Regions from separate parts of the Homo sapiens genome. Here region 1 is linked to region 2. The links come from fine-mapping of genetic effects on gene expression. A gene starts in region 2. The other region holds a variant in brackets. All regions are shown on one strand. Distances are between the middles of the regions.

Region 1 (2,908 bases), 77 kb after region 2:
AAGGTTCGTTTGCTCTGACTGGGAAAAGGTTCGTTCCTTTTAGAGAAGACCCTATTGGTAAAAAGATTGTGACTTTAAGACAGAAAGGAATTTAGAGAGAAATTACACAAGGAAACATTTTTTTCTTGACTTGAGTCTTAAAATGTGGAGTGGAAGGGATGGAAAATACAGCAGGGCAGAACATAATTTGGGTTATAATTTGCTCTTCCCAGACTCTTTCACTATTGCGATTGGGTGTGGTACCCTCATCTCCTCCATCTTTAAGTTCAAGGATTGAAGGACAGGGTCCTGCCACCCTGATGGGCTGAGGCTGCAGCTGTGGGCAACCCCTCAGGTGGAGGTGAGGCTTTCCCTGAGAAAGAAGTCAACCTGCATTTAAACAAGACCCTTTTATACCAACAGATCAGACAGCAGATGGAAGAACAGGTTGCTCAAAAGTCCTCTGAACTGGAACAGTATTTACAGCGAGTACGGGAGCTGGAAGACATGTACCTAAAGCTGCAGGAGGCTCTTGAAGATGAGAGACAGGCCCGGCAAGATGAAGAGACAGTGCGGAAGCTTCAGGCCAGGTGCCAGATTTGTTTGCAGACTTTGCCTTTATGTACTTTGCCTGGGCTAATACAGTTTCTTGGAATGACTAACACTCTGGTGGAGAGGGAGAAGTGTCTCTGCTCTGGCTGTGACTGAGCTCGAGGTGCTGTCCAGATTAGAAAGACTGTGGAGACTCGACCGGCTGGAGTGTTTCTTTTCATTCTGAGGCGCTGGGAAACCCTTGCTTCTGGGGCTAAATAAGGGCCTATTTTAGAGCAGTCTGGTAGGTATGTTTGATGAGGTACCCTTAGTCTTATTCGAGAAAATCCACAAACCCAGAATTACCTCTGATAAGAGCTTGGCATCTTCAACACGCTCCAGACCAGAGAGGGCCATTGGTATGCAGGCAGAGGCCTGTTCAGGCCAACGTTGCCGTCAGGTTTTGAGGAATAAGGAAGAAATATGCAGTTTCTATTTGGTCATTCAGGATTGGTAACATTCCTTCAGTAATTACTACTTGAAATCCTAATTTTAAAAGTATTTGAAACCTAGATTTTTTTTCCCCTTAGAACTTTATGATAGTCATGTTCGCAGATGAAAATTCTCAATTTTGGGCCTTCATGGCAGCAGGGAGGACAAAATAAAATGAAGACTCCCAAAGGGAAAAATTGAGCCTATCCTCTGCCAGTTTCTACTTTGCTGCCCCATTTACATTATTTAAGGTGTCTGGGATGGGAGACAACACTAAAAAGTATTCACTACAGTAGCAGCACAGGGTCCAGTCTTTGATCTCTGACCCCCTGTTTTGGGGAGCAGTTATGAGATGAGCTAGGGTAGATTTTCCATGGCTGCCATTTTACATGTGGAGCAGCAAAAGATGTTTCTTTAATCTTTAGATAGGAAGAGAAAGAAGAAGCCATCTTTAGTTGTATATTTTGCCAAAAGTGACTTCAAAAATAAATAAATTGTTTTGGACATTTAGATTTTAAATTTAAATTTTTTTAAGGAAAAATTATTTTCTAAATAGAAAATTAAGCATGTAGCATATTGCCAGGCATATATAGGCCCCACAGGTGCACATTCACTGCACTGTGAGGTTAATCAGGTTCTTGGAACTCCCCTCCAGTGCCACTCGGCAGTGATTTTAGCAGAAGAGTCACTCTACGGGAATGTTTGAGTGCCATGTGACGTCCAGAGTGACGTTCTACATGACACTCAACATTTTTTGAGCCACCTC[A/C]TAATTTGAGCCGTGTTGAGAGTTAATAGATTGTTTTTGTGCAAAGAATTCGCAGGTGAAATATGCTATATGTATTACTGCAGTTTTGTGGGAAGTTGATTATGACACAGCAGAGACTAGATCACAGAGGGAACCAGATAATTCTAGAAATACTAGTCTTAGTTATTTAGTGTTTATAGAATGAGTGATATTTTGAATAAGGGATAATTTTGGATAATTGAAGCCAGTGGTTTTTTAACCAATGTTATGTATCAGAATCACCTCACAAAGCTTCTGAAAAATACACCACAAAGTGTGGCTCACCCACCACACTTTGGGAGGCCGAGGCTGGAGGATCACTTGAACCCAGGAGTTTATGACCAGCCTGAGCAACATGGTGAAACCTCATCTTTAAAAAAAAAAAAAAAAAAAAGTCTACTTGGGAGGCTGAGGCAGGAGGATCACTTGAGTCCAGGAGGTTGAGGCTGCAGTGAGCTGCATTTGCACCACTGTACTACAGCCTGGGGGACAGAATGAGACCCTGTCTCAAAAAAAACACAAAACAACAACGGCAAAAAACTCCAGCTAATTATTTTGCACACTCTGATTTAAGCAATAGCAAAATGGTTTCAACCTTTTGAATCCAGATGTAACTTCTACATACAGCTCTGATCCAATATGCTGAAAGTACTGCACACAAATTTAACTTTTTCTTAATGTGCAAAGGGCATTTTATGAATATAATTATTTTATTATTCTAAATTTTTTTTTCTCTTAGTTTTTGGAACCTGAAATGGACAAATTTGCCCCCCTGCTCCCTTTTTTTTTCTGAGATGGAGTCTTGCTCTGTTATCAGGCTGGAGTGCAGTGGCGTGATCTCGGCTCACTGCAATCTCCGCCTCCTGGGTTCAAGCGACTCTCCTGCCTCAGCCTCCCGAGTAGCTGGGAGTACAGGCGCGCACCACCACACCTGGCTAATTTTTGTATTTTTAGTAGAGATGGGGTTTTGCCATGTTGGCCAGGATGGACTCCATCTCCTGACCTTGTGATCCGCCTGTCTCGGTCTCCCAAAGTGCTGGGATTACAGGCATGAGCCACCACGCCCGGCCTAGTGGTCATTTTTAAGTGAAATGTGTTCCTCTTTCCTGAAGTCACTGAAGG
Region 2 (2,908 bases):
CCTTTTGCTCCTGCCCCTTCTTTCGTCAGTGGGGCCATCCTCTCCTCTTCCCCACCAGTTCCTTTTTGATCTCAAACTCACTGAAGAGGCTCCTTCTTGTTCTTCTCTTTCCAAATATCCCTTTCTTATGAAGATCTTTTCCTTTCTTAATAAGGCAAACATGTGCATTAAGGAACTTAAAAAAGCAAAACAAAACCAAACTTCATCTGAGAACCACCTCATTTTAAAAACTCTTGGTGTTTATTGTTCTCTCCAATTAGTCCAGGATTGGAGAGGAGAGGTACTGAGCCTGGCGATTTAATCAGACCTTAGTTAACCGGCAATAGTTATTATCCTAGGATGCTAGTACTGCAAGAACCCTTCCAGAACATCTGGTGCAACCCTGCTCTTTTTATACGGGATAATTTGAAGCCCAAAGAGATCAAGTGACCATTGTGACCACCGCGAACAGATATTAATTCAACAGCTGCAATCGAATACTTTTTTTTTTTTTTTTGAGACGGAGTTTCACTCTTGTTGCCCAGGCTGGAGTGCAATGGCGCGATCTTGGTTCACTGCAACCTCCGCCTACCGGGTTCAAGCGATTCTCCTGCCTCAGCCTCCCGAGTAGCTGAGATTACAGGCATGTGCCACCACGCCCGGCTAATTTTGTATTTTTAGTAGAGACGGGGTTTCTTCATGTTGGTCAGGCTGGTCTCGAACCCCCGACCTCAGGTGATCCGCCCGCCTTGGCCTCCCAAAGGGCTGGGATTACAGGCGTGAGCCACCACGCCTGGCCGAATACGTTCTTTTAAATGGTCCATCTCTTTGGATTAGTAAAATGGGTGGAGTGATTTGGAATTGGCCCAGATCTCCTATTCTGCAAGCAGAGAAACACTACAGAGAGGTATTACCCAGGTCAAACCCCTCCTAAGATGTGAATTGAACAACAGCTAGGCGTTAGGAAGAAAATGCTGCCTGACCCTGACTTCTAAACTCCCCTTAAACGTCGTCGCTGTGTCCCTAGAACCCAAGATAGAGTATGCATGAATAAACTTTTGCGAAATGAACCAACAAACTTCCCTCGAGGTCCTTCCTGCCTCCCCGCCGCCCTGCATCTCCCCGACTTGGGACTGCGCTATCATTTCAGTCCTGGTCTGGGGACTTTTCGGGGTCTTCTCTGGCCTTCTCAGACAGTGACTCCGTTCCCAGGACAGGACCAGGGATCCCTTTTTCACTGCGGGGCGCTGGGAGGAGGCGGGTAGGCTGCTCACCTAATCTCTCGGGTTTTTCCTCAAGACGCGGTCATTTGTGTGAGGTGTTGTACTCGAGCACCCAAAATGGCCCGAACTGGTCTGGGAAACATTAGGGAGATGTGTTTACCGTCCTGGCTGACACTGAAGGCCAAGCATTCTTGCCACCAGGCGTGGCTTGACTCGCAGAACCCACACTCTGGCGGCTGTGGGCGCGGCACTGGACCGGCGCCGGCAGCAGGGCGGGGCCTGGCGGGGGCGGGGCCTGGCGGGTCAGGTGACTGCGCGGCGGGCTGTGGCTGCGGAGGTTGAGGGGCGTCCGAGGCGCGGAGGGGCTGGCTGGGCAGGAGGGGTTGGCGGGGCAGCAGGGCCGCGGCCATGGGGAGCTTGAAGGAGGAGCTGCTCAAAGCCATCTGGCACGCCTTCACCGCACTCGACCAGGACCACAGCGGCAAGGTCTCCAAGTCCCAGCTCAAGGTGGGCGCCTCCTGACCCGGCCCCCCACCCGACCCTCCCCGGCGCGCTCTGTACTTCCCTTGGGTGGAAGCGGGACCTGGCGGGCCGTGACCGCAGGGCGGGGCGGGTCGGAATGCGCCCGGTAGGCCCGCTTGGGGCGGAGTGGGTCTGAGACCGGGATTTGGTGTTTACTGCCTCCCCCTTGCCTTCGGGCCATGCCCTCGGTTGGATGTGTTAGTTCCCGCGGGTCTCCCAGGGACTGGGAAGGGTGGCGGGCATAAGGCTGGGGTGAAGTCTGGAGGGCCAAGTGTGATTCCTTCTTGGCGTTGGAGAGCGGGGGGCAGAAAGTGGATTCTGAGGCGGCAATGGGAAGCTCCCTTACACAGCCTTCCCAGAATTTTCCTCTTACTCCAGGAGAGGAAGGGACTTGCCCAAGGTCGCTGGGCAGAACCTTCTGCAGCCCACAGCCCCACACCAGGACAGTCCTCAAAACGGCTAGCTGCCCCGGAGGCGACAGGGCAGTCCGGAGACGCAGAAATGCCCCGAAGCCCGGCCTCCAGGGTCCTTCTCCTTTGGGAGGCTTTTTGACTTGGGAAGACCTTCCGCCCAGCGTCTTTTAAGTTTGGAACTAGTGGACGGGGTGTACTGTGTCCCACAGGGACCTTAGTTCCGGGTGAGGAGCGCTGATCTTTCTGGCACCCTGCAAAAGCGACTGCTTTTTCAGAGTCGTTATTGTGACTGCCGGAGACCCTAGAGTATAGGGTATAAATAAAGGGATGCTTGTAAATTGAGTAACCCCAAGCAGCGAAATTGGCATTAAGCCAGCAGAAATTGGCAGCTTCTTCAAAGTAAAAAAATATAGAAACAGACAAGAAAAGCTATTCATAGGCATTTAAAAATATACATATTTTAGATCCGAATGTCCGGTTTTCTTAGCCCCTTCTGGGAATAAATTCTGAAGATTGGGTTTGTTTTGTATATTTTTGTACAGTAATCCCGTTCTTCTGAGTAGTGGCTTTTATGCCAGTAGGACTTAACATTCTCCTTGTCTTCCTTTTGCCTCTCCTTTCTTTTTCTCACTGATAGAATCATAGTCTGGAAGGGTCCATGGAGATCATCCACGTAATTTTTATTTTACTTCATTTTTAAATATTAACATACAGTAAAATTGACTTTTGGTGTACAGTTCTATAAATTTCAACATATGTATAGATTTATAT

Evidence for each region.
Region 1: its variant is fine-mapped to the expression of SWAP70 in blood mononuclear cells (TOPMed, PIP 0.99).

The regions. Positions count from the first base shown.
Region 1 is chr11:9,739,779-9,742,686 of GRCh38, forward strand. It overlaps SWAP70 (switching B cell complex subunit SWAP70), which reads left to right. Exons shown (of 12, transcript NM_015055.4): 9 at 403-569. Among named protein-coding and RNA genes, the nearest start is that of SBF2-AS1, 17 kb to the right of the region's middle. RefSeq lists an enhancer at 678-797. The variant A/C (reference allele first, on the strand shown) is at 1,769.
Region 2 is chr11:9,662,570-9,665,477 of GRCh38, forward strand. It overlaps SWAP70 (switching B cell complex subunit SWAP70), which reads left to right and starts at 1,508. Exons shown (of 12, transcript NM_015055.4): 1 at 1,508-1,709. The coding sequence starts at 1,611. RefSeq lists enhancers at 686-885, 1,996-2,115 and a silencer at 1,356-1,855.